Linked DNA regions of Homo sapiens. The protein of the gene in region 1 purifies or fractionates together with the protein of each later gene. This does not show direct contact. Each region holds a gene or a part of one and is shown on either strand. Other genes may lie near its edges. The genes, in order: IFT88, EIF4B, CLUAP1, TRAF3IP1, SERPINB12, IFT172 and CASP14.

Region 1 (3,500 bases):
ACAATTCATAAAATGCTAAAACACAGAAGGAAATTAAGATAACACACCTACCTCATAGTAATATTGAAATGCTTGAGATTTATCTCCTTCACGATCATATAATTCTCCTAGCTTAGATAAAACTTGAGGATCGGTTGGAATAACACTGACCACCTGCATTAGCCATTCAATAGCTTGACTGGGATTTTCCATTAATTCATATCTTATGCAATGTCAGTTAAGGAAAACATGTTTTCTAAATTCATTAAGCAATAAGCAAACTTAAAAAACATTACAGTAACAATATTTCTTAGCCTACAGTAATGTGCTATTGTATACTGTTTCCTCTGGATATCTCAGGGGTGGAGATGGAATGCAGCAGTACTGTGGAGGTAACACTCTTGCTCCCTATGTATATAGCCTGCTTTCCCTTTTCCTCCATTACTATCCACTAAGATCAACTCCCAAATTTCTGGTAGAATTATTCAAAGTATTGTCCAAAAATTGTCCTTAATAAAAATGTCCTGAATGTTGCATCCAGTTATTCTTTTTCTTAACATGTTCAGCATATTAAGGAAATTATTTCCATGTGTTTTTCCTGTGAGTTTTCCCTAATTAGATTATAAACCCAAGGACAGTGTTGTTTTTTTTTTTTTTTGTAGCTTCCTTTTAGTACCTACTAAGTCTTCGGTGTATATACAAATAATTTATTCATATCAGTACTTTTTGATTAATTACTATTTATTTTATACATATTAGATATCTCAGTGAAATGAAAATATTCCAATTCAAAGTTTATTGAAAAAGAAGCATTGTTTTCAATGGTGACAAGAGTGACACCAGAAGATCTACTGTTTTTAACGATGACAAGTGTGATACCACAAGAAAAAAAAAAAAGAAAATGTACTCAAACAGTCTCAAATACATCAGTTGCTTGACTGGATCCAAGCTGATCATGAACTGGGTGGTAAAAGATAATGACACTGGCAGTTTCAGAGAAATTAAATGAACAAAACAGAACAAAAAGACTAACAGGAGTAACTATGATGCTATCTGCTCTAAAACTAATTTTTTTTTGAGATAGTCTAGCTCTGCACCTAGGCTGGAGTACAGTGGCACTATCTTGGCTCACTGCAACCTCTGCCTCCCAGGTTCAAGTGATTCTCCTGCCTCAGCCTCGGGAGTAACTGGGATTACAGGTGCCTGCCACAACACCCGGCTAATTTTTGTATTTTTAGTAGAGATGGGGTTTCACCATGATGGCCAGGCTGGTCTCGAACTCCTGACTTCAAATGATCCGCCTGCCTTGGCCTCCCAAAGTGCTGGGATTACAGGTGTGAGCTACTGTGCCTGGCCTAAAACTAAAATTTTTCAATAAAATTCTTTATCAAAAGTACAGCAGATAGTACTTAAAATTATTAATGGTACACCTCACAACATATAAAATTTTCTAAACATATTTGTATAAAATTTAAACCAAGATAACAGTAAGTTGAAAATCTACCTAAGATGTTTAACTCTTCCCAATGTTGTGGCCAAAGCTTACCAAAATAAGGAGAGAAATTAAAAGTGCTTTTCAAATAGCATGAAAAGCATTAAAAACATTAACACATTTCTGCTTTTCTAACCAAGAGCAGGGCTTATTAAGAAAGCTAAGTGTTGTGGAAGAAACTGATATTAGCGCAACATTTTGTAGTTCTACATTCCCCTGAGTTTGAAACATAATACTGATACACATAGTATACATTCAATAAATGACTATTAAATGAACAGAATGAATGAGTTCATATGAAGAATTACATAATTTTAGAGGGTAACAGTCTTTGGAGACCTCATTATATCTACAGGCCAGCTAAAAAAGTAAGAAAAATTATCCAAATTCAATCAATAGTAATCAGTAATAAACAGTATTTTATTTAGTAAGTTAGTGCTTCAATGATACCCTACAAGCTTCAGAATTAATACAACGTTCTAAAGCACCAAATTGACTTTCAATGAATGGCTTATATGTACCGAAAATGTCCTAATTACTTCAGTTATTTTCAAAATTTAATAAATAATAGTTTTAACCATTAATTCCTCTTTCGATGCAAACTACATCTTAAAATAGGATTACTCAAATGATATTTATCACACAATAATCTGCCAGATTATCCTCATCACTTACTTCAAATATTATCCTCATCAATTACTTCATTAGTTAAACTTATTTAATAATTGATCTTCAATCACCAATTGAGAGAATTAATAACTGTCCCTAAGGTTTTCAAATAAGATACATATTTGCTATCTGGTAAAGAACTTCGGCACTGTTTCGTAGGATTGCGTGAAGTTTCAGGAAACAGTCCAAAGCCTCATCTAGCCGATTTAGTTTCTCATAGGTAAGGCCTTAAAAAAAGAAGAAAAAAAAGAAAATCTATAAGTATCATTATTGGTATTAATTTATTTAACATAACAGAATAAATCTCAAAATATATGAAAATATTTATCCAGAAGAGAAAATGAAGATGAACTCAGGTTTTTGTTTTTTGATACAGGGTCTCACTCCTGCTGCCCACACTGGAGTGTAGTGGCACAAACATGGCTCACAGCAGCCTCGACCTCCCAGGCTCAGGTGATTCTCCCACCTCAGCCTCTCAAGTAGCTAGGATTATATGCACGTGCTACCACGCCCAGCTAATTTTTTGTATTTTTAGTAGAGACGGGATTTTGCCATGTTGCTCAGGCTGGTCTGGAACTCCTGGCCTCAAGCGATCCACCTGCCTCAGCCTCCCAAAGTACTGGGATTACAGGTATGAGCCACCACACCCGGCCAACTGAGGATTTTTTTAAAGAATAATGTTAGGGTGGGGATTCTCCACTGGCAGACACCAAAAGATGCTACAAAGCTTCAGTGATTTTAAAAGTGTGGTAGGGGGCAGGAATAGACAAACAGACCAATAGAACAGAATAAACAGTTCAGAAATGCACTCAACTATAGAGTTTAGTTAAAGACATTTAAAATCAGTGGGGAGGAAAGTGCTAGTAATAAGTGGTGCCAGAACAACTGACTATACATTAATTTGTATTTATTTATTTATTTATTTATTTATTTATTTATTTATTTTGAGACGGAGTCGCTCTGTCGCCCAGGCTGGAGTGCAGTGGCACAATCTCGGCTCACTGCAAGCTCCGCCTCCTGGGTTCATGCCATTCTCCTGCCTCAGCCTCCTGAGTAGCTGGGACTACAGGCGCCCGCCATCACGCCTGGCTAATTTTTTATATTTTTAGTAGAGACGGGGTTTCACTGTGTTAGCCAGGATGGTCTCGATCTCCTGACCTCATGATCCGCCTGCCTTGGCCCTCCCAAAGTGCTGGGATTACAGGCATGAGCCACCACACCTGGCCATTAATTTTTTTAAATGTAGATTCTTATTTCATAAAAAATGAACTCAAAATTTTGAAACTCAACAGAAAAAACAAAGCTATAAGAAGAGTATGAAAAGAAAATACAGAAAAATGATTTATAATCTTGAGTTAAG
Region 2 (3,500 bases), on another chromosome or scaffold:
CTACTTCTCTTTCTCTAGCAGCTGTGTCAACAGGCTTTGCCCCTCCAAAGATAGAAGCAGCTCGAGTGGACTGGGAGGTACTAGCAGAGGAATCATCTTCCTTAGGAGTACTCCGAGGCTTTAGATTCAGTTTGGGTCTTTGGGGGGGACCTAAGTTAAATGAAACTTTAAGTAATAGTTTTCCAATCACCAGAAGCTGATGGCTGAAAGCCAGATTTCTCAGATATAACTCCTATGAAATGCTACATGAGATTCAAGTTAGTGGCCTAACCAATCCACAGAAGGCAAATAGATCATTAGAAAACAGGTAGTTTAGGCTGGGCATGGTGGCTCACGCCTGTAATCCCAGCACTTTGGGAGGCCGAGGCGGGTGGATCACAAGGCCAAGAGATCGAGACTATCCTGGACAACATGGTGAAACCCCGTCTCTACTAAAAATACAAAAATTAGCTGGGCGTTGGGGCGCGCACCTGTAGTCCCAGCTACTCAGGAGGCTGAGGCAAGAGAATTGCTTGAACCTGGGAGGCAGAGGTTGCAGTGAGCCAAGATCGAGCTACTGCACTTCAGCCTGGTGACAGAGCAAGGCTCCGTCTCAAAAATAAAAAAAAGAAAAAAAAAAAAGAAAATAGGTAGCTCAGGCTGGGCGTGGTGGCTCACGTCTGTAATCCCGATACTTTGGGAGGCCGAGGCGGGTGGATCACCTGGGGTCGGGAGTTCGAGACCAACACAACCAACATGGAGAAACCCCGTCTCTAGTAAAAATAAAAAATTAGCCAGGCATGGTGGTGCATGCCTATAATCCCAGCTACTCGGGAGGCTGAGGCAGGAGAATCGCTTGAACCTGGGAGGCAGAGGTTGTGGTGAGCCAGGATCGCACCACTGCACTCCAGCCCTCCAGGCTGGAAAACAAAAGCAAAACTACGCCTAAAATAAATAAATAAAAATAAATAAAAATAAAAATAGGTGGCATAAATAACCAAGTTCTGGCCGGGCGCAATGGCTCACGCCTGTAATCCCAGCACTTTGGGGGGCTGAGGCGGGCGGATCACCTGAGATCAGGAGTTCGAGACCAGCCTGACCAATATGGAGAAACCCCATCTCTACTAAAAATACAAAATTAGCCAGGAGTGGTGGCACATGCCTGTAGTCCCAGCTACTCAGGAGACTGAGGCAGGAGAATCGCTTGAACCCACCGGGGAGGCGGAGGTTGCAGTGAGCTGAGAACACACCACTGCACTCCAAACTGGGCAACAAGTGCCAAACTCCATCTCAAAAAAAAAAAAAAACAAAAAAACCCAAGTTCAATTACTCTTCTACCACATCCATGATGTAGTACAAGACCACAGGAAAGACTAAAAATGGTAAACATTTAAGTAATAAATTAATAATCTATCAAGACTTCTTTTATATGGGAAGAAATTTTTGACCATCATTAAACTACTGGATGAAAGTATCTTGCTCCGAAATCTGCATGTTAAGAACTAATACAATATGATAGGGAAGATTCTAGTTCTTTATTTTTTTTGAGACAGTCTCGCTCTGTCACCCAGGCTGGAGGGCAGTGGTGTGATCTCAACTCACTGCAACCTCTGCCTCCCTGATTTTCCTGCCTCAGCTTCCTCAGTAGCTGGGAGTATAGGCACGTGGCACCATGCCCAACTAATTTTTGTATTTTTAGTAGAGATGGGGCTTCACCATGTTGGCCAGGCTGGTCTTGAACTCCCGACCTCAAGTGATCCGCTTGCCTTGGCTTCCCAAAGTGCTGTTACAGATGTGAGCCACCACGCCCAGCCAGGAAGACTCTAGATCTTATACCCTTGTCTCTGTGTATAATATAAATTTGGCAGGTGGTTCATGGGGCAAAGCATGTAACACTGAACAAATAAACTCTTAAGGCAGGCAGTCTGATTTCTTCCTCAATTCAAGTTGTCAGAACACTTTCAAGAGAAACCTAAGTGTTTCAAGGAAGTTAAATTTCTAAAAATGATTGTTTGTCCTAAATATTTTGGATATACAAAAGATACAGAGAATATAAAGAAAGCCTATGTATACAATCACCTGGCTTAAGTAATGTAACCTTAACAAAGAGGTAAAACCTCCTGATGACATGACCAGCTGTACTCTGTCCTCTAAATAACCACTAGATGGTGACTTCATCATGCCCACACTTGATTTTATACTTTTACTACATATGCACATAGTACCTGTAGATAGAGGGTACTGTTTAACAAGATCTAAATTTTCTACGAGGGCTTTAAGCCGACAGTTTATATATGTTCCTAAACATATTTTAAATCTGTGTTATAGCCCCGTCACTTTTGTAAGATAAAATAGGGGCTCAGAAAAAGTAGCTCATTTAAGATATTAATAAAAGAACGCAGCCGGGCACAGTGGCTCACGCCTGTAATCCCAGCACTTTGGTAGGCCGAGGGCAAGTGGATCACTTGAACTTGGAAGTTTAAAACCAGCCTGGGCAATGTGGAGAAACCCCATCTTTAGAAAAAATATCAAAATTAGCCAGGCATATGGCACGCACCTCTAGTCCCAGCTACTGGGGAGGATGAGGAAGGAGGATCACTTGAGCTCAGAAGGCTGAGGCTACAGTTAACCATGATTATGTCACAGCAATTCTAGCCTGGGCGACAGAGTGAGATCCTGTCTCAAGAAGAAAAAAGTAAAGGCTGGGCAAACAGTGAAGGCCCGTGTATGTCAGAGGTATAGAGAAAGGGCTATGTTCCAGGCCATGGGGAAACTAGACAGGTCTAAACAGGAGAATAAGGTAATTAGATCTTATGCCAGAAAGACAACTGACAACTGGGGCCAATGTGAAGAACGGAGCAAGAAAGGGAACTCTGTTAGGAGGCAATGGCCAGTAACGTGGGTGCAGCAATGAGGCCTCAACGAAGGTAGCAGCAGCAACTAGAGACAAGAGGGCAAATCTTAGAGGGAATGGGGGGGTAAGAGCAAGAAGAGAAATAAAAAATTAGGTATGCAGCTCTTGGTGGGGAGGTAAGGGACAGTGTGAGAGAGGAAAAGGTCAGAAGTCAAGGAGAACATGAGGCCCACATCTGAGCCTCCACTTTTCTAACTTGTAATTTTACCTATACCACACAGAAGTCTTAGAATTAAACAATACTTGTACAAGCCCTCAGCTCACTGATGGAACAGAGTAAATGGTTAATAAATGTTAGCTATTATTTTTAGGCTTCTTGCTTGAGGAAATCGCTTTTAAGAACGTAGTTTTTTCACTGGGCGCAGTGGCCCACGCCTGTAATCCCAGCACTTTGGGAGGCCGAGGCGGGCGAATCACAAGGTCAAGAGATCCAGACCATCCTGGCCAACATGGTGCAACCCCGTCTCTACTAAAAATACAAAAATTAGCCGGGCGTGGTGGCAAGCCCAGCTACTTGGGAAGCTGAGGCAGGAGAATCACTTGAACCTGGGAGGCAGAGGTTGCAGTGAGCCGAGATCGCGCCATTGCACTCTAGCCTGGGCAACTA
Region 3 (3,500 bases), on another chromosome or scaffold:
AATACTGAGCATTTGAGTTTGGCAGAGCTATTTTGTTGTCCAGGAGGGCTAACTGGGAGTACCTAACGCATCCGTGTGGACACATGTCATCTTGACGAGGAATTCATTGCTAGCATTACTCTGTGGCAGAGGCAGGCCATGGAGAAATGGTACGGGACAGGCACATTTCGAGGGCACTAGAAAGAGCTTGGAGTTTAGAACATTTTAAACATTGGGTACCTGGGAAAGAACAGTCAAGGGCAGTGAAAAGAAACGTTGGCCATTTTTTTGTATTATCTGGGGCCACCTCTGGGTTCAGAGAACAAACCAAACAGTATGCCTCAGAGTGGCAGGTAGGTGGCCCAGGAAACTTCCCAGGGAGCCCCTCTACCCTACCCTTCCTTCAACAAGTACATCTCTTTTTCTCTTACTCACTCTCGCTCTCTGTCGTTAGAATACCTGTTCCCTCGAAATACCCCATGCCGGAAACACAGTGCTTTATTTTTAATGTTTAGAACAACAATATATAAAGCCAACTTCCTCCCTCTGTCTGTCCCTCCCCCCCACTCTCTCTCTTTGTCTCTTTCTCTTTCTCAACGGGGTCTCACTCTGTTGCCTGCCACTCTGTCTGGAGGGCAGGGTGTGATTATAACTCACTGTAGCTTCAGACCTCTTGGGCTCAAGCGATCCTCCCACCTCAGCTTCTTGAGTAGCTGGGACTATAGGCACTTGCCACCATACCTGGCTAAATTTTTTAAATTTGTTGTAGAGATGAGGTTTCCCTATGTTGCCCAGGCTGGTCTCAAACTCCTGGGCTCAAGTGATCCTCCTGCCTTGGCCTCCCAAAGCGTGGGGGTTACAGGTGTGAGCCACCACGCCCAGCCCCCATTCTCTTTCTTGATAATAATCAAGGCCACATTTTATGATCTGAGATATTTCCTCCTGTCCCCACCCCTGTTCCCATCCTTACCTGTCCCACCATTTAGCATCTTTTGAGCTGGAATCTGAAGGCAGGGCAGGAAAGATAAATGATAAAATCTATACTTTCTTCCTTTGAAAGCAGGAGGCCTGTCTCTGCCCTAAAATTAGATGTGTCTGTTCTGTGTCCCCAGGTCATACAGGCATGCGTGATGGGCATTTAGTTCTCCTCAGAGGCAGGGAAATGCAATCGGAGAAGCATGGGGTGGGGCAGCTGCTTCACTCTGGGCGCCCCTGTCCACCAGGCCACGAGGCAACCGCAGAGAGAAAGGGCAGTAAGTTTCAGGACCCTGGAGTTGCTCAGGCAGTGTTAATTCTCTTCCCCTTCCTTGAGTTTAGCTCTTTTTTTGTTCTGTAGCACAAACTTAGCAGTCCTTACACAGTGGTGAAGAAGAATAGAACAGTCCAGAAAAGGGCCATCTCTCCTGAGTCTGTATTTCCTCTTCCACAGGAAGCTAAAAACACTCTCTGCCTGATACAGAACAAGCTCAAGGAGGAAGAGAAGCGCCTGCTCAAGAGTGGAAGTAAGGCTGGGCTTCGTAGACGAGCAGTTTACTCTGGACTAGTATTTTCAGCCTTGAAATATATATAGAGAGATATATATATATTTTTTAATATGTATTTTCTTCTTTTTTTCAGCAGTTTTTTTTTTACTGTAGTAAGAACACTTCACTTTACATCTTCAATTTTGAAAAGTATAATAAATTATTGTTGACTATAGGTACAAAAATATTTTCAAAAGGCGGTTTTCTCACAACTTCTATATTGGGTACCATTGTATTCACTCAAGAGTCTGGTTTAAATATAGCATTTAAAACACATTTCGTTCTTGTGCCAGTTAAGATAGTGTTTTCCCCTGTTTAAATGATAGTTTGAATTATATATGATGCGTAACTATAAGAAAACATGGCCCTAGATGTGTGTAGGGTTCTGTATTTTCAGGCTGAATGATGGAAAGCAAGCACTGGGATGCAGTGCAGGGAGAGGGGCCGCTCGCTTTGTGATGGTCCCCATGCTGCTGAGATGCCCCCCATAATCCAGAATGGCTCAGCAAGACACTCAGCTGGAGAGACACAGGGTTACGTCCATGCAAAGCCTAGATTCCGGGAAGGAGCTCTCTGTGACCAGGCAGCTTCCCTTATCCTTGTGTGGGCGGCAAGCCGCCCAGGTGCCGAGGCAAGAGACCGAGAGCACGAGCTGTTCCAGTATAATAAAATATATAAAATAAGAATAGTTATACTAGATATAGATCATAGATATGATTATATATGAATATCATTAATCATTAGTTTATAGCAATTACTCTTTATTCCAATATCATAATAATCCTCGCTCTACAATCATAACCTAGGAAAAAACAGGCCATACAGATATAGGAGCTGAGGGGACATGGTGAGAAGTGACCAGAAGACAAGAGTGCAAACCTTCTGTTATGCCCAGACAGGGCCACCAGAGGGCTCCTTGGTCTAGTGGGAACACCAGCGTCTGGGAAGCCGCCCGTTGCCAAGTGGACCGTGGTCTAGTGGTAGCGTCAGTGTCAAGGAAAAACACCTGCTACTTAGCAGACCAGGAAAGGGAGTCTCCCTTTCCCCGGGGGAGTTTAGAGAAGACTTTACTCCTCCACCTCTTGTGGAGGGCCTGACATCAGTCAGGCCCGCCCGCAGTTATCCGGAGGCCTAACCATCTCCCGGTGATACTGTGCTTCAGTGGTCATGCTCCTAGTCTGCCTTCATGTTCTGTCCTGTACACCTGGCTCTGCCTTTTAGATAGTAGTAGCAAATTAGTGGAAGTACTAAAAGTCTCTGATAAGCAGAAATAATGGCGTAAGCTGTCTCTCTCTCCTCTCTGTCTCTCTGCCTCAGCTGCCAGGCAGGGAAGGGCCCCCTGTCCAGTGGATACGTGACCCATGTGACCTTACCTATCACTGAAGATGGCTCACTCTCCTTACCCTGCCCCTTTGTCTTGTATCCAATAAATATCAGCACAGCCTGGCATTCAGGGCCACTATCAGTCTCCACGTCTTCGTGGTAGTGGTCCCCCAAGCCCGGCTGTCTTTTCTTTTATCTCTTTGTCTTGTGTCTTTATTTCTACAGTCTCTCATCTCTGCACATGGGGAGAAAACCCACCGACCCTGTGGGGCTGTACCCTACATCCCTGAACTTCAGTGTCAAGTCACTGTCAGGGACCGGTAGCAGCCCAGGATCTTCCTGCTGAATTGATGGCCTTGTTGCACGGAGTTCCTCCTCCTCTTGCTGGTTGCCCTTTCTTTTCTTCAGGGTGAAATATTCTATTCACTCTCATGTTGAGGGCAGCATACTTGAGGCATCAGGCCCACACACATGCTCCCACACACACTCTCTCTCTCTCTCTTTCTCTTTCTTTGCCATTTCCCTTGTATCTCTCTCATTTTGCACCTGTTCTGTGACTCTCTCGTCTGAATCTCAGGAAACTTTGGAGGAAGGATAGGGACTGCTGGGAAATCCTCCAGGAACAAGGTTAGGAAATTTGAAGGGCCTGTCTAGCCAAAGCAGCCCTCCCCTTTT
Region 4 (3,500 bases), on another chromosome or scaffold:
AAACATTTGAAATTTTTGTCATGCTTTTGGTGTCAAGTCTTCGAACTCTTTGCCTAGTCCTAGATCCCAAAGACTTTTTCCTCCTGTGTTTTTTATCTTAAAGTTTTATAGATTATATTTAAATCCATAGTCCATTTCGAGTTAATTTTTGTTTAAGATATGAGATTAGGTCAACGTTTTGTTTGTTTTTTGGCTTATGGATGTCCACTTAACCCAGTGCCAAATGGTGCAAAGCTCTCTCTGCCACTAAATTGCTTTTGTACCTTTGTCAAAGATTGCTTGGGCATATGGACATATTCGTATGGATCTACTTTTGGATTCTGTGTTCTGTTCATTTGATCTATGTCCCTCTGTCAATACTGCACTGTCTTGATTACTGTAATTGTATAAAAAGACTTGAAGCCTACGCGGTGGCTCACACCTGTAATCCCAGCACTTTGGGAGGCCGAGATGGGAGGATCACCTTAGCTCAGGAGTTTGACACCAACCTGGCCAACATGGTGAAATCCCATGTCTACTAAAACAAAAATTAGCTGGGCATGCTGGTGTGCGCCTGTGATCCCAGCTACTTGGGAGGCCGAGGCAGGAGAATCGCTTGAATCTGGGAGGCAGAGGTTGCAATGAGCCAAGATCACACAACTGCACTCCAGCCTGGGCGACAGAGTGAGACTCCGTTTCAAAAAAAAGCCTTGAAATTGGGTAGACTGGTTATTTCTGTCTTTATTCTTTTTCTGAAAATGTTTTAGCTATTGTAGTTCCTTTGCCTTTCTGTATACATTTTAGGATAATCTTGTCTATACAAAAACATTGGCTGCAAGTTTGGTAGGATTTGCATTAAACATGCGTATCGGTTTGGGGAAAATTCATGTCTTTACTGTGTCCTGTCTTCCATTCCATGGACACAGTGTGTCTTCTCATTTATTTAGATTTCCTTTGATTTCTTTCATCTGCATTGTTTCGTTTTCCATTTCCAAGTCCTATACATGTTTTGTTAGATTTACAACTAAGGATAGTCTTCTATTGAACAATTGTCAATGGCATTGTATTTTTAATTGCAGTGTCCATGTTTTCATTGCTCATACATAGAAATATAGTTGATTTTCATATGCTCATCTTGTATACTACAACCTTGCTGAACTCACTTATTAGTTGTATGAGTTTTACGTTTTACTTAAAGTCCCAATTATTTAACACTTTCTATGTGCCAGGCATTATGCTAAAGCTTTCTTGTACTTGTCCAAGCCAGTAAATGGTGGAACTAGGATCTTCATACATAAATCATTTATCCACTTCATTAGTTCATTTCACAAATTCTTAGGCAGAGCTTATGTGAATCACAGTGAATCTAGGCACAAGGTCCTGCCCTCCTGAGCCCACAGTCTGAAACTAGCAGAAGTAATGCAAGTGAATATGTAGCTATGATACGTTCAAATTAAATAAGTTGATTTGTTACAACTGAGTGCATTTACTAGCTCATTCTGTAAGTGGGTGAGGCAAGGAAGGGCCCCTTACCGGTCTGGAGTGGGTGGGGGGGTGTCCAGGGAGGGCTTCCTAAAGAAACAGTGTTGCAGGGCATGATGGCTTACATCTGTAATCCCAGCGCTTTGGGAGGGCAAGGCAGGAGGATCACTTGAGCCCAGGAGTTTGAGAGTAGCCTGGGCAACATAGTGAGACCCTGGCTGTAAAGAAAGAGAGAGAGAAGAAAGAAAGGGAAGAAGATAACCATCTGATCTTTGACAAACCTGACAAAAACAAGCAATGGGGAAATGTTTCCCTATTTAATAAATGGTGCTGGGAAAACTGGCTAGCCATATGTAGAAAGCTGAAATTGGATCCCTTCCTTACACCTTATACAAAAATCAATTCAAAATGGATTAAAGACTACATGTTAGACCTAAAACCATAAAAACCCTAGAAGAAAACCTAGGCAATACCATTCAGGACATAGACATGGGCAAGGACTTCATGTCTAAAACACCAAAAGCAATGGCAACAAAAGCCAAAATTGACAAATGGGATCTAATTAAACTAAAGAGCTTCTGCACAGCAAAAGAAACTACCATCAGGGTGAACAGGCAACCTACAAAATTAGAGAAAATTTTCGCAACCTTCTCATCTGACAAAGGGCTAATATCCAGAATCTACAATGAACTCAAACAAATTTACAAAAAAAAAACAACCCCATCAAAAAGTGGGCAAAGGATATGAACACACACTTCTCAAAAGAAGACATTTACGCAGCCAAAAAACACATGAAAAAATGCTTATCATCACTGGCCATCAGAGATATGCAAATCAAAACCACAATGAGATACCATCTCACACCAGTTAGAATGGCGATCATTAAAAAATCAGGAAACAACAGGTGCTGGAGAGGATGTGGAGAAATAGGAACACTTTTACACTGTTGGTGGGACTGTAAACTAGTTCAACCATTGGGGAAGTCAGTGTGGCGATTCCTCAGGGATCTAGAACTAGAAATACCATTTGACCCAGCCATCCCATTACTGGGTATATACCCAAAGGATTATAAATCATGCTGCTATAAAGATACATGCACACGTATGTTTATTGCGGCACTATTCACAATAGCAAAGACTTGGAACCAACCCAAATGTCCAACAACGATAGACTGGATTAAGAAAATGTGGCATATATACACCATGGAATACTATGCAGCCATTAAAAATGATGAGTTCATGTCCTTTGTAGGGACATGGATGAAACTAGAAACCATCATTCTCAGCAAACTGTCGCAAGGACAAAAAACCAAACACTGCATGTTCTCACTCATAGGTGGGAATTGAACAATGAGAACACATGGACACAGGAAGGGGAACATCACAATCCGGGGCCTGTTGTGGGGTGGGGGGAGGGGGGAGGGATAGCATTAGGAGATATACCTAATGTTAAATGACGAGTTAATGGGTGCAGCACACCAACATGGCACATGTATACATATGTAACAAACCTGCACATTGTGTACATGTACCCTAAAACTTAAAGTATAATAATAATAAAAAAATTAAAAAAAAAAAGGAAAGAAGGAGAAAGAACTGATGTTAATTTTCCCAAGCTTATTGATTCTTATCAACTCACATCAGTTTCTGACATTCAGAGATGTCTGTGATCAAAGCTCATATGAAGAGAATTCTAAATGTTGCATGGCAAAGAACCCAAGAACTCCTGGCCCAAACCGCATGCAGCTCCCCACTCGTCTCTGCGTCCTCCTCACCTCCTTCACCTGCTGCTGTCTCAACTTGACCCCTTCCATCTGGCCCCTGACCCCTGGACTCTGTGGCCTCCCTGAGCGGCCAGCACAGTCACGTCTAAGTCGACCTGACCATCTGCCTGCTGGGTGCTGCTGGCTGCTGCTGGCTGCTGCTGGCGCTGGCTGCCCTGCACATTCTCCATGCCCTCCTTTCCATGGCACCAGTTTCTGCCTCTCCTTTGGGTTTCTTTCCCCTTGCCCCCTGGCAAGCTGGGTTTTGAAGTCATTT
Region 5 (3,461 bases), on another chromosome or scaffold:
TCAGGAGTTCAGGACCAGCCTGGCCAACATGGTGAAACCCCCTCTCTACTAAAAATACAAAAATTAGCTGGGCGTGGTGGCGGGCGCCTGTAATCCCGCTACTCAGCAGGCTGAGGCTTAAGAATCACTTGAACCCAGGAGGCAGAGGTTGCAGTAAGCCAAGATTGCACCACTGCACTCCAGCCTGGGCAACAGTGCAAGACTACATCTCAAACAAAAAAAAAAGAAAAACCTGTAGTCGGCAGAAATGTCTTCTATATTCTGATGATCAGCTGGCTATCACTCTGGTTTTAGCATTGTCAGTTTTCATCTTTTTTATATGCCTTCATATGTAATTATGATGGAAAGCTGGGAGAAACTATTACTGGGGCAAGATGTATTTTTCCTGTGTAACTGAGATGAATTGTTAGTTTCATAGATTATGTATTTTTATATTTTTGGATGAAACAGTTTGAAGTTAAATTTATATCCCTAAAAAAATCAGTTGGCAACACATCGTATATATTTTAACTAATAACAAAAGTGCTTTATTCATTCAGAAGAAACTTCTTAATAAATCAAAGGTTAGTAAAGAATGTTTACTGATTTACATAAAGATTTAAGATTCTTAATTTTCCTCATTATTGTAAATAGATACATTCTCCCTCTCATGCTTCAAAATCTGAGAAATCCCGATGTAAATGAAAAAAAAATGTGTTTACCAAGTAAAAGAATAAGAACAAAAGAAATGCCGGGCAGTGCAGGCCTATATATAGGTCATGGTTTCCAGCTACGTGTCGGGCAGTGGTGCCAAGTCAGACATGGAAACAGCCCCCAAAACGTCAACCCCAAAAGGAACCACAGGGGACATGAAGTTTTTGGTTATCTGAAATTAATTTGACCCATGGGACATGCATTCTGGATAGGGCACTGCCTCAAACTGCCTCACGTTACCAACGTCAAATTGTTTTAGGTCGTAAGTGAGCTTCAACAATGAGAAGGTTGTATGGAGAACATGGAACTTGTCTCTCAGAGCACAAAGAAATCACTGGGGTAGGTGAGAAAAGGAAGAGGAGGCTAGCATGGGAGCAGGTGTGGTTCACCTGCCTTCTGCAAAAAAACTGCGTGGCCACACTGAACGACTGGTGGCAGCTGGGAGGAGGACAGCCACAAGGTGGGCCAAGGAAACTGAGCCGCAAGCAAGACCTGAAACCCACCTCGATAGGAAAGAGACTGACTCCAAAGAGATGTGAGTTGGACGTGTCAGTGGTCATGGCAGAACATTCAGCTAAGATAGAAATTAGGAACTCAGATTACCACACCAGAGAACAGAGGCCCTGAGTCCGCGAGTAGGAACACTCAGAGGTCAGGCCTTCAGTAGACTAGAGCTTGAGATGAGCCCAATGGCCTTCTTGACAAGGGTTTCAGGTTTTGTTTTGGCTTTTTGGGTTTTTTGTTTGTTTGTTTTTTGAGACAGGGTTTCGCTCTGTCACCCAGGCTGGAGTGCAGTGGCGCCATCTCAGCTTACTGCAGCCTCCATCCCCTGGGTTCAAGTGATCTTCCCACCTCAGCCTCCCGAGTAGCTGGGACTATAGGTGCACACCACCACGCCCGGCTAATTTCTGTATTTTTTGTAGAGTCAGGGTCTCAATATGTTGCCCAGGCTGGTCTCGAACTCCTGGACTCAAGTGATCCACCTGACTCGGCCTCCCAAGAAGTGCTGGGATTGCAGGCATGAGCCATCATGCCCAGCCAACAAGCATTGCTATGGACACCATGCCCAGGCTCAAGCCTGTTGTCACCATGTGGTCTGGCATGAGACCTCTCGGAAGACACAAAAGTCCACGTGGCCAGAAGGCAGAGAGAGGGGCACACGGAGGCCAGCCTCCACGTGGCCAGAAGGCAGAGAGAGGGGCACACAGAGGCCAGCCTCCACGTGGCCAGAAGGCAGAGAGAGGGGCATACGGAGGCCAGCCGTCCACAATGCCAGCAGCACTTCTCTTGACACCTGCCTGTGCTGGGTGCATAAAAGGAGCTAGCCACAGGTGGGAATTCTTGGAGCTAGGGGGAGGAGAGACAGAGGGAAGTGTTTGATGATAATGTTGGGGGACTCAATAAGGAAAACTGAGATAAACCTCCTCTAAATCCACTAGCCACTTTCCTGGGTCAGTGTCAAAATCACAAGACAAATATCATTCCCCTGCTCTGTGCAAAATGAGTGCTGGTTGGGGCAGTCACACATCTTTGAGCTATCACTTAAATACGCCCAAGCCCTGCCTTGTCCTAGGTGAAAAGACCTCACAGGACATCTTCCATGCAGTAGCTGTCAAAGGAAGAAACAGGGCATCTCGCCCAGTGATGACCACAATCATAACTATCCCAGAAACAGAGCTGAGTTTCCAAACACGTTCCGGTCAAACTACCCCAGAAACAGAGCTGAGTTTCCAAACACGTTCCAGTCAAACATGTTCTCTTGCTGCCCATGTTAAAGTGGCTTCTGAGTTTGCCATCTCTTAGAAATGGTCTAATGACCTGAACTTTTAGGATTCCTTCAAAAGGAGGTAGGTACTGTTCTGAATTGTGTTGACCTTCAGGTCACAGAGGGTGAATTTATATGCTTGAAAGTTTAGGGTAGAGAACAACAGCCCTTCAATACTAACAGACTCAGATGAAAATAAGCTACAGGGTGACAGAAAGATCAAGATAAGCACAAGCCGATGGCTGGAGGATGAAGGAGATGCTTTAGATATTACCAAAAACTCAAATGCCCATCTTATGCCAGGGGAAGATTGTATTGATATTTTCCTCCAGCTCCAAAGTACTAGACACTGCTCCCCTTTTAAGGAGAGCAGACCCTGCCATAAAAGAGAATGGTTTGGGTTTTGTTGTGTCTAATGAAAAAGAGAAAAGGGTGGTTGGCATTAAACTCCACCCAAGATCGTAGTGACCTTTCCGAGACAACAGCCCCAGTGGCTGCAGCTGCCTGGGTACCGTTTTCATCCACCTCCACAAAGGTTTTGTGGATAATTTTTGACAAGTACAAATTGGGACTTGGAGAGATTCCAGTAAGATCAGCCCTCGTTTCATCAAAGATATCCGTAATGCCCATGTCTTGTAAAATGGAATTGAGATCATAGCTGTCTTCCAGGGTGAACCGGGGGAAGGACAGGACCACCGATTCTTCTGACATGTTTTCTGAGCTGCTCCAGGCCACCATTTTTTCATAGGTGATTTTCCTTTCAAGCTACAAGAGGAAGGAAATAATATTTAGCATCAGATTATGGGACCACAAAGAATGCCCCAATTACTTCAAGGTGCCTGAGTCCCTTTCAGTGGGCAGTGACAACCTTCAAGACCTTTCCCTAAGCTAGAGAATAGTCTGATTTCATTTAAAACTTCAAGCAAATATCTTTCCTCTTTAGAAGAAGTTAGGGGACAACTCAGGTTCCAGTGTGCTCTGGTGTTTGAGAGACAAGTGTTCA
Region 6 (3,500 bases), on another chromosome or scaffold:
CTGGCCACATGGTGAAACCCCATCTCTACTAAAAATACAAAAAATTAGCCAGGAGTGGTGGCACACGCCTGTAATCCCAGCTACTCGGGAGGCTGAGGTGGGAGAATCGCTTGAGCCAAGGAAGCAGAGGTTGCAGTGAGCCCGAGATCACACAACTGCACTTCAGCCTCGGCAACAGAGTGAGACTCCATCTCAAGAAAAAGAACAGTTGCCTTGGAAAGGGTGTGTGCAAATAAGGAGCCCTGAAGCTTAAGCTTCTTTTAGTTTCCCAGTATTTCTGTTGGTATAGTAGTTAAAAGGCTTTTGGTCCTCATGGGCTGGCATCTTAGCCAGGCTGAGGAGAGCTTGCTGCTTTCTGATCCTCATATCTTTCTGGTGTCCCTCTCTGCTCTGCCTGTTTCCCCTAGAATGCTGTGGAGGAGGCCATGGGCATGTACCAGGAGCTACACCGTTGGGATGAGTGTATCGCTGTGGCTGAAGCCAAGGTACCTGTTTTATCTTCTCCACAGTTGTTCAGAATTTGGTTCTGCCAATTTCAAAAACCTCCTTTTGTCAAGGAGGCCATAGAAACCAGAACAGGGTTGGGGCTTGGACTTGATGTGGTGAGGAGTTAGGATACTGCTGACCCAGGAGGATTCCCCTTGTTATAGAGGGATTGGAGAAGCATGGGAGGCAGAAGGGTAGGAAGGGGGATGTGACTCCTAGTTGTCCTCTGTGCATGTCCAGGGGCACCCAGCCCTGGAGAAGCTACGTCGTAGTTACTACCAGTGGCTGATGGACACACAGCAAGAGGAGCGAGCAGGTGAACTACAGGAGAGCCAAGGGGATGGGCTAGCAGCCATCAGCCTCTACCTCAAAGCTGGGCTCCCTGCCAAAGCTGCTCGGCTGGTGCTGACCCGAGAGGAACTGCTAGCCAACACAGAGCTGGTAGAACACATCACTGCAGCCCTTATCAAGGGGGAACTCTACGAAAGGGTATGCTGGCTTCCTTTTCCTAGCCCTTATCTCCAGAGCTCAGGACCCTTCCCTTACCCAGAGGAGTCTTGGGGTGCAGAGCGCTTCCTGACTGCTGGTGTTCCCTTGTTTTCGGAGCTAATACTTAGTTCTTTGTGTTGTAGGGGTATCATAGTAATGTGGTATGTGTTAACAGGCAGGTGATCTCTTTGAGAAGATTCACAATCCACAGAAGGCCCTGGAGTGCTACCGTAAAGGCAACGCATTCATGAAAGGTACTAGCCACCTATAAGCCATCCTTTACTGTTGTGGACTCTTGCCCATCTGGTTCCCTGGCACCTCTTGTAGGGGTGGGTTGCCCCTACACACCTGTGGGTGTTTCTCGTAAGGTGGGACGAGAGATTTGGAAAAGAAAAAGACACAGAGACAAAGTATAGAGAAAGAAATAAGGGGACCCGGGGAACCAGCGTTCAGCATATGGAGGATCCCGCCAGCCTCTGAGTTCCCTTAGTATTTATTGATCATCTGTGGGTGTTTCTCAAAGAGGGGGATGTGTCAGGGTCACAAGACAATTGTGGGGAGAGGGTCAGCAGACAAACACGTGAACAAAGGTCTTTGCATCATAGACAATGTAAAGGATTAAGTGCTGTGCTTTTAGATATGCATACACATAAACATCTCAATGCTTTACAAAGCAGTATTGCTGCCCGCAGGTCCCACCTCCAGCCCTAAGGCGGTTTTTCCCTATCTCAGTAGATGGAGCATACAATCGGGTTTTATACCGAGACATTCCATTGCCCAGGGACGGGCAGGAGACAGATGCCTTCCTCTTGTCTCAACTGCAAGAGGCATTCCTTCCTCTTTTACTAATCCTCCTCAGCACAGACCCTTTACGGGTGTCGGGCTGGGGGACGGTCAGGTCTTTCCCTTCCCACGAGGCCATATTTCAGACTATCACATGGGGAGAAACCTTGGACAATACCTGGCTTTCCTAGGCAGAGGTACCTGCGGCCTTCCGCAGTTTTTGTGTCCCTGGGTACTTGAGATTAGGGAGTGGTGATGACTCTTAAGGAGCATGCTGCCTTCAAGCATCTGTTTAACAAAGCACATCTTGCACCGCCCTTAATCCATTCAACTCTGAGTGGACACAGCACATGTTTCAGAGAGCACGGGGTTGGGGGTAAGGTTATAGATTAACAGAATCTCAAGGCAGAAGAATTTTTCTTAGTACATAACAAAATGGAGTCTCCTATGTCTACTTCTTTCTACACAGACACAGTAACAATCTGATCTCTCTTGCTTTTCCCCACACCTCTTGGTGCGTGTGTTCAGGATGCCTGGCTCCAGTCCTCCATTCCTCCCCTTCTTACCTATTCTCCATGCTTCATCTCCCTGTCCTACCTTTTTCCTGAGGCCCATCCCTGGAAATCTGGGCTGAGCATCTTTTCTCTCCCTGGCAGCGGTAGAGCTGGCTCGATTGGCCTTCCCAGTGGAGGTGGTGAAACTAGAGGAGGCATGGGGGGACCACCTGGTGCAGCAGAAGCAGCTTGATGCAGCCATTAATCACTACATCGAAGCCAGGTATGGGAGTATGGGAATGTAAAGGAGATTTAGGTGTGAAGTGAGGGGCAGTGGAGCAAGTAAGGACACCAAGGCCTTAAAGAAGAGATCTCAAAATGTAGGTTGAAGTGTGCTTAAAGGGTCCTTTTACCTCCATTCATCTTCATCTTTCATCCTACATATTTATATCTTTCCCAACTTTGCCAGGTGCTCCATTAAGGCAATTGAGGCCGCCCTGGGTGCCCGCCAGTGGAAGAAGGCAATTTATATATTAGATCTACAGGACCGGAACACTGCATCCAAATACTATCCTCTCGTGGCCCAACACTATGCATCCCTGCAGGAGTATGAGGTGAGGAAGAGTCCCTTTCCGCAGCACGAGGCAATGCAGTAGAGGATAACAATGAGAGAACCCAAAGCAGGAAGTGGAGGCAAGTTCACCAGATCCTTCTTTCTGGGCTCCAAACAGCATCATCACCTTGAAGGGGAAGAGAACAGTTTACTTTCCCATTTTCATTCCAGTGTGACACAGATATCGCCCTTCACCCCAGATATATAAAGTGAGTCTCTAGCTGTGTTCCAGTCAGCGTGATTCTTCATGAATAATGCTAACATAGTTATGATATAAAATTGCTTTGCATTGCAGAAATGTGAGGCCCTTTTGGATTCCACTGTTTGGGGCTGGTCTTTCTTTTTAAATGGTAGAATGTATGAGACACCCATACTCATCTTTTCTTCTCTATTATTACAAGGTTGTATCGCAGGCTCTCCACCATCCCAGCCAAGGTTTGTTCTTTCCTCATTCAAGCTGCTTTAAGTCTGTTGCTCTGACCTTTTGTATCTACCTCCCATCAACTACAGATTGCTGAGGAGCTCTATACTAAGGGAGATCGGACAAAAGATGCCATAGACATGTACACCCAGGCTGGTCGTTGGGAACAAGCCCACAAGGTAGGGATGGGTGGAGTTCATGATAAGAGAACTCT
Region 7 (3,157 bases), on another chromosome or scaffold:
CTGTAACTTTACAAATTCCCAACACGTCTGTTTTTGTGAAAGAGACAGGAGCTCGGTGTGGTGGGTCACATCTGTAATCTCAGCACTTTGGGAGGCCAAGGCAAGAGGATTGCTTGAGACCAGGACTGTGAGACCAGCCTCGGCAACATAGCAAGACCCAATCTCTACCGAAAAATAAGAAAATTAGCCAGGTGTGGTGATGCACACCTGTAGTCCCAGCTACATGAGAGGCTGAGGTGGGAGGATTGCTTGAGCCCAGGAGGTCGAGGGTGCAGTGAGCTATGATGGTGCCACTGTACTCCAGCCTGGGTGGCAGAGCAAGATCTCATCTCTTAAAGAAAAAAAAAAGGAAAGAAGACACAGGCTGAAGCTCCTGATTCTCCATTCATGATAGACACACCTGGGAGGAAGCCAGCCACTGGGAAAAAAGAAATTAAATCCATAACTCCTTTTGTATCAGCCTCACTGTTTCAGCACAGAACAAAGATTTCAACACTTTCTTTCAAAGTTTGACAACTGTTTATTGAACACTCATTATGCAGATTAAGGGCTTGTTCCCTGCCCTCCAGAAGTGGTCATTTCCAGCATCTAATCCTGGGTGAGAGGGAAGGATCAATCAGAAAAAAGAGAGGAAATGGCTTTCTGGAAAAAGTAGGGGTGGGAGGTAGTGGAAGAGGGGTAAAGGGAGAGGGAGGGCCCTCCAGCTTGGGGGAAATGGTGATAGCAAAGGCTTAGAGGCAAGGGTGAGTAAGAAGACATTAGCCTTTTTGAAAGAGTGAATTCATGGTGGAAGAGATGGGAGATGGGTTTAGCTAAGTGCTGGTAGATGGCAAAATTGGAAGGGTGTGAGAGATCCTGATGTGCGGTTTGACTTTGGTCTTTATTTGATTGATTGATTTATTTTGGAGACCGGATCTCACTGTCTCACCTAGAGCTGGGATGCACTGGCATGATCATAGCTCCTTGCAGCCTCAAACTCCTGGGCTCAAGTCATCCTCCCACCTCAGCCTCCTGAGTAGCTGGGACTACAGGCATGTGCCACCATACCCAGTTAATTAATTTTTTTTTTTAGAGACAGGGTCTTGCTGTGTTGCCCAGGCTGGTCTCTTAACTCCTGGCCTCAAGTGATCCTCCCGCTTCAGACTCTCAAAGTCGGGAATACAGGTGTGAGCCACTGTCCAGTACCCTGGTCTTTAAATAATATGGTATGTTGTGTCTTCTTGAGTGTTCCAGGGAGATCACTGTTATAGATGGTATGGAGGACACATGAAAAGTGGGATGGAAAAGCAGAGAGGCAAGGGAGGAAGTTGGTTGCAAAGATGCAGATATGAGAAGCTGAGGACTTGAGCCTGGACAGTAACATGTCAGGGAAGAGAAGACCGGCATGAAAGTTGTTTCAAAATCAGGCTGGACTGGGCATGGTGTCTGGTGGCATATGAAGGATGCAAGAAGAGAGGGGTCATAGATTGACTGCAGAAATCTGAACCTGGGATCTGAGGTTGAGGATACCAGGGAACGCTTGGAGGAGTAACCGGGAAGAAAAGCCCTGAGTTTTTAGTGACGCTGGATGTGCCCGTAGGTTACTTGAGCAGGAAAGGTCAAAGCTGGGGATGGAGAGATACAGGCTGTAGAGTTGGAAGATAGTGAAGCCGATCTGACTTCCAGCCTGGTGCTGCAAGGTTACCTGGAGGTAACCTTGGCTGGTGGTTATTGAAAATTTCTAGAAACTTCCAGAAAGCTCCTACCTTGGAGATAGGGAAAATTTTTATTAGTCATCTTCACTAATTAGAAAAGTTTTCAGATGGATCAGGATTTAGCAGGTTGTGGAAAAGAGGCTGGGCTGGAAGTCAAACCTTGTCCTTGCCTCTGTCTTACTGTATTGCATTTGACAAATTATTTAACCTCTCTGGTTATGAGAGGTTAAATATTATGTTGTCTGCAAAATAGCAAGGTGACAACAGGGAATTTGCCATAGCTCCAACACGCTCTCATTTAGAGTAATTGAATGCAAGAATAGTTGAATAGATGGATTTTCTTGGAGAGAGGGCAGAGTCCAGGGTTTCAGGGGAGGGGTGTTAGGAGGAAGAGATCCAGAAAGGAGGAGACAACTTTATTATCTAGAGAGGCCATGAGCTAGGAAGAGAACGGAGTTAGGACACCAACTTGCCAGCCAAGGAGGAGTGGTTTTGGAGAGAAAGAATGGTTCTTACCTTACTAACTCTCCAGGGTAAAGGAAAGAACTGGAAGTTGGGAATGCATTGGCCTCAGGAGGAGGTTTGACCTCCAAGTGAGATGCAGGAGCCAGCAGAGGTTGGATTGGGGTAGGAGGGGATGAGTGGGCTTTGGTTTGTCTATGGAAAATCTTGAGCTTTATCCAGTTTCTGCTTCATGGGAGAAAGAAGACCACAGGAACAGAAAGTGGGATAAGTGAATGCACTCTTAGGTCTCTTCGGTTGCATTAATAAAGATAGAAAGTCCAGCCTGAGGGAGGTGATGTTAATGTTGCCACCATGCCTTGTGCTAAGTTTTGGCTGGCTTGCTCTAATAAGGACAGGAGGACCTGCATGAAGGGTGTGATGGAAAAGAAACTGGGTGCCATTTGGCCTTGGGAACAGAAGATCTTGGGGAGAGGTAAGAGCTGCCTCTAAATTTCTGTGAGACAGAAAGAATGCTGGAAGGAAAGCTCCTCCTGGTCTTTCTACTTCTACTGCAGATACAGCCGTTTCCGGAGGGTGCTTTGGATTTCAGGGTTCGTTTTCCTTGCTTTTCCTTCTTGAACCAGCTCTGCTTCTGCCATCCGCCGGGTCACCTGCAGCAACAGGTGTGGTGAGCTTGGAGGAGTCAGTGTCATGGACTTATGGGGGGAGGGTTAGGGAACGGGGCAGGTGGGTATTCTTGTCCTAAGATGAGAGACCGTTGTGGCCTCTTCCTATACCATAGTTTGTATGGAATCCTTGGCTGGGCATTTTTTAAATAATTTGCAATAAAAACATATAAACATTAAAAGAAAACAGTTTGCCCAAACATTGTTTATATCCAAGGGGGATTTGTTTATAGAAATTTATCTCCCATACTGTGGCTTTTAAGAGTCCCTGCATTTGGGAAAGTTGTTGGAAAGTGGGCTTCTTAGTTTCTGTATTGAGATCTGGCTTGGATT

What was found.
Region 2: the proteins of IFT88 (region 1) and EIF4B purify together in Homo sapiens (co-immunoprecipitation; one large-scale study listed by IntAct). This does not show direct contact.
Region 3: the proteins of IFT88 (region 1) and CLUAP1 purify together in Homo sapiens (affinity purification with mass spectrometry; 2 studies listed by BioGRID and IntAct, with this or other methods). This does not show direct contact.
Region 4: the proteins of IFT88 (region 1) and TRAF3IP1 purify together in Homo sapiens (affinity purification with mass spectrometry; one large-scale study listed by BioGRID and IntAct). This does not show direct contact.
Region 5: the proteins of IFT88 (region 1) and SERPINB12 purify together in Homo sapiens (co-immunoprecipitation; one large-scale study listed by IntAct). This does not show direct contact.
Region 6: the proteins of IFT88 (region 1) and IFT172 purify together in Homo sapiens (affinity purification with mass spectrometry; 2 studies listed by BioGRID and IntAct, with this or other methods). This does not show direct contact.
Region 7: the proteins of IFT88 (region 1) and CASP14 purify together in Homo sapiens (co-immunoprecipitation; one large-scale study listed by IntAct). This does not show direct contact.

The regions. Positions count from the first base shown.
Region 1 is NC_000013.11:20,640,157-20,643,656, reverse strand, and holds part of IFT88 (intraflagellar transport protein 88 homolog), read right to left. Parts: intron 2,368-3,500; coding exon 2,259-2,367; intron 203-2,258; coding exon 52-202; intron 1-51. UniProt on the Homo sapiens protein: Positively regulates primary cilium biogenesis. Also involved in autophagy since it is required for trafficking of ATG16L and the expansion of the autophagic compartment.
Region 2 is NC_000012.12:53,030,456-53,033,955, reverse strand, and holds part of EIF4B (eukaryotic translation initiation factor 4B), read right to left. Parts: intron 151-3,500; coding exon 1-150. UniProt on the Homo sapiens protein: Required for the binding of mRNA to ribosomes. Functions in close association with EIF4-F and EIF4-A. Binds near the 5'-terminal cap of mRNA in presence of EIF-4F and ATP.
Region 3 is NC_000016.10:3,525,004-3,528,503, forward strand, and holds part of CLUAP1 (clusterin-associated protein 1), read left to right. Parts: intron 1-1,408; coding exon 1,409-1,481; intron 1,482-3,500. UniProt on the Homo sapiens protein: Required for cilia biogenesis. Appears to function within the multiple intraflagellar transport complex B (IFT-B). Key regulator of hedgehog signaling.
Region 4 is NC_000002.12:238,393,518-238,397,017, forward strand, and holds part of TRAF3IP1 (TRAF3-interacting protein 1), read left to right. Parts: intron 1-3,500.
Region 5 is NC_000018.10:63,566,369-63,569,829, reverse strand, and holds the end of SERPINB12 (serpin B12), read right to left. Parts: intron 3,224-3,461; coding exon 2,819-3,223; 3' UTR 501-2,818; downstream 1-500. UniProt on the Homo sapiens protein: Inhibits trypsin and plasmin, but not thrombin, coagulation factor Xa, or urokinase-type plasminogen activator. May play a role in cell differentiation.
Region 6 is NC_000002.12:27,458,744-27,462,243, reverse strand, and holds part of IFT172 (intraflagellar transport protein 172 homolog), read left to right. Parts: intron 1-407; coding exon 408-485; intron 486-726; coding exon 727-975; intron 976-1,150; coding exon 1,151-1,229; intron 1,230-2,414; coding exon 2,415-2,535; intron 2,536-2,721; coding exon 2,722-2,866; intron 2,867-3,375; coding exon 3,376-3,465; intron 3,466-3,500. UniProt on the Homo sapiens protein: Required for the maintenance and formation of cilia. Plays an indirect role in hedgehog (Hh) signaling, cilia being required for all activity of the hedgehog pathway.
Region 7 is NC_000019.10:15,055,637-15,058,793, reverse strand, and holds the end of CASP14 (caspase-14 precursor), read right to left. Parts: intron 2,810-3,157; coding exon 2,705-2,809; 3' UTR 501-2,704; downstream 1-500. UniProt on the Homo sapiens protein: Non-apoptotic caspase involved in epidermal differentiation. Is the predominant caspase in epidermal stratum corneum. Seems to play a role in keratinocyte differentiation and is required for cornification.